Regions from separate parts of the Homo sapiens genome. Here region 1 is linked to region 2. The links come from fine-mapping of genetic effects on gene expression. A gene starts in region 2. The other region holds a variant in brackets. All regions are shown on one strand. Distances are from middle to middle.

What was found. PIP is the estimated chance that this variant, and not a neighbour inherited with it, causes the effect.
Region 1: its variant is the best candidate, but not a certain one, in a credible set for the expression of DHDDS in lung (GTEx, PIP 0.70).

The regions. Positions count from the first base shown.
Region 1 is chr1:26,569,237-26,574,567 of GRCh38, reverse strand. It overlaps RPS6KA1 (ribosomal protein S6 kinase A1), which reads right to left. Exons shown (of 22, transcript NM_002953.4): 18 at 2,958-3,119; 19 at 2,643-2,719; 20 at 2,275-2,392; 21 at 1,207-1,344; 22 at 1-489. The coding sequence ends at 367. Among named protein-coding and RNA genes, the nearest start is that of MIR1976, 17 kb to the right of the region's middle. The variant T/C (reference allele first, on the strand shown) is at 2,917.
Region 2 is chr1:26,429,968-26,435,337 of GRCh38, reverse strand. It overlaps DHDDS (dehydrodolichyl diphosphate synthase subunit), which reads right to left and starts at 3,017. Exons shown (of 9, transcript NM_205861.3): 1 at 2,962-3,017; 2 at 2,330-2,447. The coding sequence starts at 2,392. It overlaps LOC124903883 (a long non-coding RNA gene), which reads left to right and starts at 3,101. Exons shown (of 2, transcript XR_007065557.1): 1 at 3,101-3,365; 2 at 4,220-4,583. RefSeq lists enhancers at 2,698-3,187, 2,725-3,261, 3,288-3,347, 3,418-3,477, 3,262-3,798 and 1 more.

The sequences.
Region 1 (5,331 bases), 140 kb before region 2:
CTCTAAAGAGTCTCAGAGAGCCCCAGCGTGACTCAGTTCCCCTCCTGGGGCCGCAATGGCTGTTTCTGCTCCCAGAAAGGCAAATGGATCTTGTAAAAATCCATGGTGGTTGATGCCATTTTTTTCATAAAAAAAAGTTTATACAGTGAATCGCTTTCCACCAGCAGAGCCTGAGCCGAGAAGAGTCCATCCTGGGGAAGGAGAAGGCACTTCTCACACCCTCATTAGGGGTGTTCTGGGCTGGCAGCTTCCCCGGCCCCTCGGGTTCCAGCTCCCTCTGGCCCTGTGGTTCCGGCCTGCTCCCTCTGGGAAGCATGCTGACTGTGTCAAGCTAGCACCGCCCTGTGGCCCGAATGCCCTGGTGCCTCACAGGGTGGTGGATGGCAACTTCCTCACTCGCCGCTGGGCCAGGATGGATGACTCGATGGGCTTCAGCTGGGGGGTGGGCTTGGAGCTGTTGAGTGCGGAGTACGTGGCAGCCATGGCTCCCTGAAAGAGAAGTGGGGAGGTCAGGTCACAATGGTGGGAGATGTAGCGGGGAGGGGATCCATGCCCCAAGGGTAGGCCAGCCCCTCTCAGTGTTCCACAGCCCACTTTTTTTGGTTTTGTTTTTGTTGTTTTTTTTTTTTTGAGATACAGTCTCACTCTGTCACCCAGGCTGGAACGCAATGGCACAATCTTGGCTCACTGCAACCTCTGCCCCCAGGGTTCAAGCGATTCTCCTGTCTCAGCCTCCCAAATGGCTGGGATTACAGGCGCTTGCCACCACACCTGGCTAATTTTTGTATTTTTAGTAGAGATGGGGTTTCACCATCTTGGTCAGGCTGGTCTTGAACTCCTGACCTCGTGATCCACCCACCTCAGCCTCCCAAAGTGCTGGGATTACAGGTGTGAGCCACCGCGCCCAGCCTAGCCCACTGTTAATCCAGCCTCAGTGGTCCTTTATGGTCATGGGTCCTGCCTCCCCCATCAGACTGGAGGGTTCAGAGGTCAGCAGCTGTGCCTTCCAGAGGATTGGGGGCTGTGAGTGCACCGTGACACTGTAGCATGTTAGGCTCCCTGACGGCAGGGCTGTGTCTTCTTCTCCTATGTTCCACCTCATGGTGCTTGGTACAGACATGGCATTGCCTGGCTCTTCCACAAGTCCCTGACCATGCCACCTTGGGCTGACCCCCCAGATGCCCAGCAGCCCAAGGGTGGCCATACCTTCACAAGCTGTAGGTCCTGGTGGGACAGCTGGCTTTGGGGAAGCTTGTCTTTCTGGGTGACCCATGGATGCTGCAGAACCTGCTTAGCTGTGAGGCGCTGGTGGGGATCCACGTGTAGCATCTTGGACACCAGGTCCTGGGGACACAGTGGGCAAGGGGGTTGGGGGAGGGCTGCAGGGGAGCAGGCCCCTGATGGGGCACAGGAGGGCAACCATCTCCTGCTAGCTCCCGCCTGAACCCTTGCGGCAGCCCCTGGGATCCATTCTCCACTCTGCTCCAGGGCTCCCCGCACACAGCCAAGGTTCCTGTCGCTGGGCCTTTGCTGCTCTAGGCCCTTCGTCCTGGAACACCCTTCCATTTCTCCTTTGCCTTCAAAAAGCCATGTGGGAAGGTGGGAAAAGCCTCAGGTTTGGGCTCAGACAGATTCAGGTTCAAAACTTGCCTTCTGCACTCATCAAATGAGTGCCCTGGGCAAGTTCCTTCAACTCTCTGAGCCTCAGTTTCCCTGCTGAGAAATAGGAATAACCACTCCCTGCCTCACAGGTTGATGTGAGGTGGCCGGCCGTACATAGAGGGTTCAACTCTGTCTGGCATACAGGTTCCCAATGACCAAAAACTGTTGCTAATACTGAAAGCTCACATGCTACTTCCTCCGAGGAGGCTCTGCTTGGCATGGCCAGTTGCTCTGCTCTGTGTCTCCACGGTCCACACCCCTGGCCAAGAGCGTCCGCCTATCTGTGCCTCCAGGCATCTCTGCCCCTTGTGTGCAAACCTGTATCCCTCACTACACTACGTTTCCACAAAGCCGGGACTGTGATGATGCAGCCCTCAGTGCCCCACAGGGTCCAGAATGAGAAGGGCCAATGAATGATCACCAGGTTACCCCAACAAGGTACGGAGGTGGTGGTGGTCTGCCTGGGAATCTTCCGCTTGGAGAAATACAGCAACAGGGATTTGTGGAACATCCGCTTGGAGAAATGAGGCTGTTCATGAACTGCTGAAAAGCCCTAGGATGGGACCCTGCCTCCCTCCTCCAAATAAGCCCACGCAGGCCGTACAGACTCACCTTGGCTGTCTCTGAAACTGTGTTCCAATTTCCCCCACTGAGGGTAAACTTCCCACTGCCGATCCGGGTTAGGATTTCCTCTGGTGTGTCACTGGGACCGTTGGCAAATGGAGTATATCTGCAGAAAAGCCCGCACGGTCTGGGTACAGACTCTGGCCTCCATACTGGGGCTGGGGCTGCGGTGGGAGACTGTGTCTCCCCCTCAGATGGGGTACTCCCAAGGTAGAGCTCCTGGAGGCAGGAGCATGTCCCTATTTCCAGACCATCCTGGGGCGGGGCTGGCTGAGCCATTCCTATCAGACAAGCACCACTCAGCCCAAGTGCTAGGGCTGCAGGAGTGGGGAAGGGTCCAGGCCAGGGGCACTCACCCTGCCAGCATGGTGTACAGCAGAATGCCCAGGCTCCAGATGTCGCAGCCTTCATCGTAGCCCTGGCGCTTCAGCACCTGGCAACAGGGCAGGGGAGGTGGTCAGTCTGGGGGGGCAGTAGAAAGTCGCCACAGATGTTTCCTGCTACTCCCCTCAAGGGCAGGACAAGGGTCCCAGGCACAGGCTAGATCTTCCCTTGCCAGCTGGGCCAAGGTCACAGAGACTGGAGTCCCGGCTAATGTGGGGCCTCTGGGAGGGGGCACAAGGCCTCCAA[T/C]TCCCCCTCACTCTTACAGCTGAGGAGGCTGGGCCACTCACCTCAGGCGCCACAAAGTTGGCTGTGTAGCAAGGTGTCATGAGGAGCCCATTCTCAGCCCGCAGCTGTTTGGCAAAACCAAAGTCACAGATGCGCAGGCACTCGGGATTCCCGGACTCGTCCACATACAGGATGTTGCTGGGCTTCAGGTCCCTGTGCACAACCTAGGGGCAGGGGGCTGGGGTCAGTTCTCAGTGTGGGGAGGTGGCTAGTGGCCCAGGTCAGCGGCCAGAGATTAGAAAGCTACACAGACAGGGTGCAGAGGGACGGGTGCATGGACTTGGCATCCGAGAGAAGGGGAAGGGGCTGAAATGATGGTCTTATTGCTGCTGCTACTGACTCTGTGTAGGTGTCTACAGGTAGCTCTAAGTTAACCTGTCAAAACTGAACTCTCAATTCTCCCCTAAAACCTACTCATCACATAATCTTACCTTGTGGCAACTCCATCCTTCCTGTTACTTAGGTCAAAATCTTAAAAGTCTTTTTTTTTTGAGATGGAGTCTTCCTCTGTCACCCAGGCTGGAGTGCAGTGGCACGACCTCAGATCACTGCAGCCTCCGCCTCCCGGGTTCAAGCAATTCTCCTGCCTCAGCTCCCAAGTAGCTGGGATTACAGGCACCCGCCGCCATGGCTGGCTGATTTTTGTATTTTTAGTAGAGATGGGGTTTCACCATGTTGGTCAGGCTGGTCTCAAACTCCTGACCTCAAGTGATCTGCCTGCCTCGGCCTCCCAAAGTGCTGGGATTACAGGCGTGAGCCACCACGCCTGGCCCTATTTTCCTTATCTTTAAAATCAAAGAATACACTGCTTTACTTTTATCTGTAGCACTTCCCACTACTTAACATAATATTTAATTTGTTTTCTGAGTCTGCCCACCGGCATGTAAGCTCCCTGAGTGTTTTGCTCACTGCTGTATCCCAGCACTTAAACTAGCTCCTAGTACATGGCAGGTATTCAATAAATATCTGTTGAATGAATGGATGAATGACACTTACTGCTGAGGCCATAAGCAAACGGCTTTCCTCTGGGCCCTGTTTGCTCATCTGTAACTTGAGGGGGCTGAACCACCCCACATTTCATTCTTCTCCTCCCCACACTCTGTAAGGCTTTTTTGTTTTGTTTTGTTTTGAGACAGGGTCTGTGTTGCCCAGGCTGGAGTACAGCAGCATGATTCATGGCTCACTGCAGCCTCAATCTCTGAGCTCAAGTGATCCTCCCACCTCGACCTCGCAAGCAGCTGGGACTAGAGGCATGTGCCACCATACCCAGCTAATTTTTAAAACATTTTTTGCAGAGACAGGGTCTCGCTATGTTGCCCAGGCTGCTCTTGAACCCCTGGGCTCAAGTGATCCTCCTGCCTGGGCCTCTCAAAGTGCTGGGATTAAAGGTGTGAGTAACTGTGCCTGGCCTGTACAGTTCCATTCATAGTCAATCCTCTAACTATCAACTACCAATACCTCTCAGATCTCTAACCCTAGTCCAGAACTTTTCCTGAGTCTTGGCTCATAAATCCAACTGCCTACCACAAGGCAACCACTGGATGTTCCACAGAGCCTCAAACTCAACACATCCCACACTAAACTCCTCATGTTCTCATCTTCCTGCTCCTCCTCCCCTAAGCTAATGGAACCTCCCTGGGCATTGTCAAAAAACCTTCAAAGGCTCCCTACCTGCAAGATAAAGCCCAAAGTCCCTACCCTAACATGGGAGGCACAGCCATCATCTGTTCCAGCCTCACTGTCCATTGCATCCCTCAGGTGCCCTGAGCTCAGGCCACCAGGGGCTCCTTCGGTAACGATCATAACCCTATGTCTGTGGAATGCCCGTTCACCTTCAGCACCCAGTGCAGGGCCTAGCACAGAGCAAATGCTAAGTGAACTTTGTGCAATGAATGAACAAATCACACCTCTGAAACACAGAGACAGATACCTTGCAGGTTAGATTAGTAGAGTTTTGCAGGTTAGTTGGTTTTATTCAGATAGTCTTTTCATAGTCTCAGTTGATCTCCAAGCCCTCCAGCAATGCCCGTGGAGCCCGTGGAGTAGGTAGACATGGCCCAGCACAGTCCACCTCCATAGGGAGAAGAGTGCCAGGTAGATGAGGGGGAAAGGGCCACACTGTTAGGGTAGCCCCAGCAACACACTGTATCCAAGCCTTGGAGAAAGTCCCGTGGGCTCCCTCCTTCAAACACAATCGTATGCCCACAGCACAAGGCCAGGCCCCCAGGAATGTGGACTCTACCTAGAGGTCAGGGATGCTCAGCTTGGCTGAGGACACCAACTACCCTGCACAAGTGAACTTCCAGTTTACAAAGAATGTTACCAGTCGTGATCTCACTGGAGCCATCCACTGCACCTCGGCGGGTGGACAGGAAT
Region 2 (5,370 bases):
CAGGATTTTTATTAAAATTTTGCTTTTCAGCCGGGCGCAGTGGCTCATGCCTGTAATCCCAGCACTTTGGGAGGCCGAGGCGGGTGGATCACGAGGTCAGGAGTTTAAGACCAGCCTGGCCAAAATGGTGAAACCCTGTCTCTACTAAAAATAAAGAAAAATTAGCCGGGCGTGGTGGCGAGCGCCTGTAATCCCAGCTACTCGGGAGGCTGAGGCAGGAGAATTGTTTGAACCGGGGAGGCAGAGGGTACAGTGAGCTGAGATTGTGCCACTGCACTCCAGCCTGGGCGACAGAGTGAGACTCTGTCTGAAAAAAAAAAATTGTTTTTCAAAGCAAACAAAAAAGACTTTTTTTGAGCCAAACAAAACTTACTTGGGGCCGGACGTGGTGGCTCAAGCCTGTAATCCCAGTACTTTAGGAGGCTGAGGTGGGCAGATCACTTGAGGCCAGGAGTTCGAGACCAGCCTGGCCAACATGGTGAAACCCCAACTCTACTAAAAAAAAAAAAAAAAAAAATTAGCCAGGCATGGTGGCCGGTGCCTATAATCCCAGCTACTTGGGGAGGCTGAGGTGGGAGAATCGCTTGAACCCAGGAGACAGAGGTTGCAGTAAGCCAAGACTGCACCACTGCACTCTAGCCTGGGCAACAGAGTAAGACTGCATCTCAAAAAAGAAACCACAAAAAACAAAACCCTTATTTGGCTTGGAGCAGCTTTGAGTTGTCTCCCATAACACAAATGGACTCCTTAGCCTATTTTTCCTCACCTGGGAGGGCTCTTCCCTGACTGCTTCCTCATCAACACTTCTCCTTTTTCTACTTCTGTCTCACATACAGCCTTTCCAGCCCCCAAAATCCATTCAAGTTATGCAGCTTGTTCTTCCAAACATACCACTGCAGTGGTTCCCCAAGGAGATACTTCCCATTTCCTGGACTGCTTGAGATCACTTGGCATTTGTTTGTGAGCATGTGTGGGGCTTGTATAAAGGTTACTGACTCATAAATTCATTACTACCTGCTGCTTGACAGCCTGTGGTTGAAAAACAAAACCAAGCTGACTGGCCCCAATCTCAAACCTGTCTTAGGCAGATATAATATTGCTGTGATTCCTAGAGAAAAAGCTGAGGGAAGATTTGGGGAAGATAGGAGATAATAGTCTTCAAATGTCTGAAAGACAATCCTAATAATAATTAAGAACTGCTAGACATTATGCTAACTGCTTTATATTAATGTCTCATAAATTCTCATGATAATTCTACAGTTGTTAAAGTCACATGATTACTAAATGATAGAACTGGACTTTCAGGCCAGGTGCAGTGGCTCAGTCCTATAATCCCAGCACTTTGGGAGGCTGAGATAGGTGGATCACCTGAGGTCAGGAGTTCGAGACCAGCCTGGCCAATATGAGAATCCCATCTCTACTAAAAATATAAAAATTAGCCATGTGTGGTAGCATATGCCTGTAACCCCAGCTACTTGGGAGGCTAAGGCAAGAGAATTGCTTGAACTTGGCAGATGAAGGTTGCAGTAAGCCAAGATTGCGCCATTGCACTCCAGCCTGGGCGACAGAGCGAGACTCCATCTCAAAATAAAAAAAAGAACAGGAATTTCACCCATGTTTGTCTGCGTCTAGAGCCCAAACTCTTTTTTTTTTTTTTTTTTTGAGACAGAGTCTTGTTCTGAACTCTTTTTTTTGAGACAGTCCCGTTCTGTCACCCAGGCTGGAGTGTGGTGGCACAATCATGACTCACTGCAGCTTTGACCTGGGCTCAAGAAATTCTCCCACTTCAGCCTTCCGAGTAGCTGGGACTACAGGTGCACACCACCAAGCCCTGCTATTTTTTTAATTTTTTGGAGAATCGGGGTTTTGCCATGTTGCCCAGGCTGGTCTCAACTCCTGAGCTCAAACAATCTGCCCACCTCAGCCTCCCAAATTGCTGGGATTACAGGCGTGAGTGACCGGGCCCAGCTCTACTGACAGATCAAAGAATATATCAAAGATTAACCTATTTAAATCAAGAAGACAGTACATGGAACAATGGATCAATGTTCCAGGGAAACAAATTTCAGTTCTCTATAAAGAATACTTAGCAGTCTAGGCTGCCCAGTGACATTAAGAGGCCTGGGCTTCCAGAAAATATCAGAGTTAGGACAAAAGTCTACCAGAAATGTAGACCTGGAAGTTACCATTCTAAGACTCTTTGGTTTCCTTGCTAAATTCCACTTAACATCATGAATTGCACTTAACATCATCAACTTTAATAACAGGTTTTTATATAAGATTATCCAACTGACCAGAAGGCCAACCGGTGCTCTGGGCCATTGCTCACCTTTATGATGTTGGCACAGAACCGCTCCCAAAGTGACAGCTCTCCTTCCTTGATCCATGACATAGTTCTTTTCCAGTCAGAAGATCACTCCAGAACAAGCAAACACCAGCCAGGTAATCTTGGATAAACAAGAAAGAAAATAAGAAGTCACCAAGGTTTGCGAAGAGCTATAACTGACTTCTGGGGAATCAGATGGACTATGGAGAGCAGCCAGCATTAGAATCCAAAGACACTGGTCTAAGCCTATAATCTTTTACCACCCAGAGTTTTATAACGCAATGTGACCTCTGGAGGCAAAAGCCTTTCCTCGGTTCTCCTGGCTTTGCAGACTTCTTCCCATTCCCATTTCCTCCGTATCTGCACTGACTTCTTCTGAACATCTAAGTCGGTTTCCTGCCACATCATGGTGCCCACATCTTGATCATTCCCCGTTTCTTCCTTCTCCATCTTCCCCTAAGCTGTTTCCAACTCTGTGCTCCCAGTTACTAACTCCTTCAGTTATCGCACGCCTAGTACTTCACGCCTCAGTGGTCTCCTGATTATTCCCTCAGTCGTCCCTTTGCTTCTCCCGCAGCTGCTCCCCGCCCAGTCACCCTCTTCTCCTCTAGTTCACCCCTTCAGTTCAGTGGCACCTGATTAGCTCCGCTGGGCGCGTCCCCACGGCTTCAGTGGGCCGGCACTTCCTCATGACGTGGCGCTGGCAGAACACGTCATCTTTGGGCGCTGCGACACGCCCCTTCCGTCACCCAAACTGAGGGGACCCTGCCCTGCGCCTGCGCCTGCGAGCTAGTGGGAGGGCGGTTCTCAGTCCCGCGGGGTGTGGAAGCCGGCGCGGGTGAGAGCCAGGCTCACGTGACCGAGCGGGGCGGGAGGCTGGGCTCCAGGCCACGTGCTGGGAGACCAGCTGGGGAAGACAGGGTTGAGCCCAGCGTTGGGAGCGGAGGCGTCTGGAAAACGCGCCAGGGAAATGAGCCAGGGGCAAGAATCGAGGCGCTTCTCGGCCGTCGAAGGCAGCTTAGGACTGCTGAGAGACTGGGTAAGGCAGCGTCCTTACCTTGGAATGCCGCAGAACCGGGCTTCATTAGAGCACTGGTGCATACTCTTAAAAATTATCTCGTTACCGTTTCGTATTTTATTTAGTGGATTTAATCGTCTGGGAAGGAGTTTCTAGCCGCAGCCAATCTTACAGACGCGCAGAATATTAATCTATTTTGTGCCGACTTAAGGCACGCATATTTTAGGATTTGTGGATTCCCAAGACCTATCCCAACGAACTCAAGAGAAGGGGTAAGGCCAGAAAGATTTCTGCCATAAGAATGACTTCTAGGCCAGGCGCGGTGGCTCACGCCTGTAATCCCAGCACTTTGGGAGGCCGAGGCGAACGGATCACCTGAGGTCAGGAGTTTGAGACCAGCCTGACCAACATCGTGAAACCCCGTCTGTACTAAAAATACAGAAAATGAGCCGGGCGTGGTGGCGGGCGCCTGTTATCCCAGTTACTCGGGAGGGTGAGGCAAGAGAATCGCTTGAACCCGGGAGGCGGAGGTTGCGGTGAGCCAAGATCAGGCCACTGCACTCCAGCCTGGGCAACAGGAGCGAAACTCTGTCTGAAAAAAGAAAAAAAAAAAAAGCATGACTTCTAAAATAACAGAAAGGTGCTCGCTTTGGCAGTACATAAATGAAAATAACAGAAATTAACCCTGGTAGAAAAGTTAAGGGCATTAGCTCTACTGAACCTTTACGAAAAAAAGGGTTGCAAGAATTCTAGGCTCACAAAACAAATTTGTAGTTCAATTTTCTCAAAATTGAAAGAGGAGGAAAAAATTCTTTACAGATTCTTATACAACCAGTATTATTTTTATTTATTTATTTATTTATTTATTTATTTAGAGACGGAGTCTGGCTATGTCGCCCAGGCTGGAGTGCAGTGGCGCGATCTCGGCTCACTGCAGCCTCCGCCTCCCGGGTTCAAGCGTTTCTCCTGCTTCATCCTCCTGAGTAGCTGGGACTACAGGCGCGTGCCACCAAGCCTGGCTAATTTTTGTATTTTTAGTAGAGACAGGGTTTCACCATTTTGGCCAGGATGGTTTTGATCTCTTGACCTCGTTATCTGCCTGCCTAGACCTTCCAAAGTGCTGGAATTACAGGCGTGAGCCACCGCGCCCGGCCACAACCAGTATTTCTTGCAAAGCATAATACAACTTTATGTAGTATTATGTTTTGAGTGGAATAAAAATTCACAATTGTCAAAGAACCTTTTTGTCGCATTTCATTTTACAATATTATTAAAGAAATGAGGCAAGGAAGAGATGTTTTATTGGCACTTTCTAATTGATTATGTCTTCCACTCTTTCTAATGAAAGGGGTTATTTTAACACAGCAACATGATGAAAGAAAGCCCTAGAGATGAGTAGAAATGAATAGTGTTGAGCTTTTCCATCCTTCCTGCTTTGCAGCCTGGGGAGTAAATTTCAGTCCAAGTTACTTCATTTTGCAGCAAGACAATTTAATGAAGTCCACTAGTAGTTTGCTGCTTCATGAGGTTCTACTGTCAGCTTTGACTTTTGGTACAATTAAGGAGCCACAAAGTCCCTGGAGTAGATTATGAAACTTCTTACCCTTACTCTTATAATGTCAGGCTTGAGGATTTAAACCAGTTTCCCTGTTTCCTTGCACGGTGTTAATATACTTGGTTTGCCTCCAATCAAGTTTTTTTTTTTTCCTTTTTAAAATCCTCCTTCCCTTAGTGGGAATAGATGTTTAAAATTCAGTGTTCTTGCTTGATGACTTGTGATGTATATAAAAAAACTCGATGTTCATTAAAAAGCTAGCAAACTTTGGCTCAAAGAAAATGTTGCATTTATAGCTAGTCAGTGAATCTCCTCTGGCCTCAATTTCCCCAGTTCCACAACACATTTCTCTCCTTGGGGTGCTGCAAGCGGTTAATTAATTAAGATTTGTAAAAGGCTTTGAGGAGTAGGGGACAAAGTATTATTAGGGTCTCATGCCCCAAGCCATGGCCCCATCCTTTCATCCCAGCC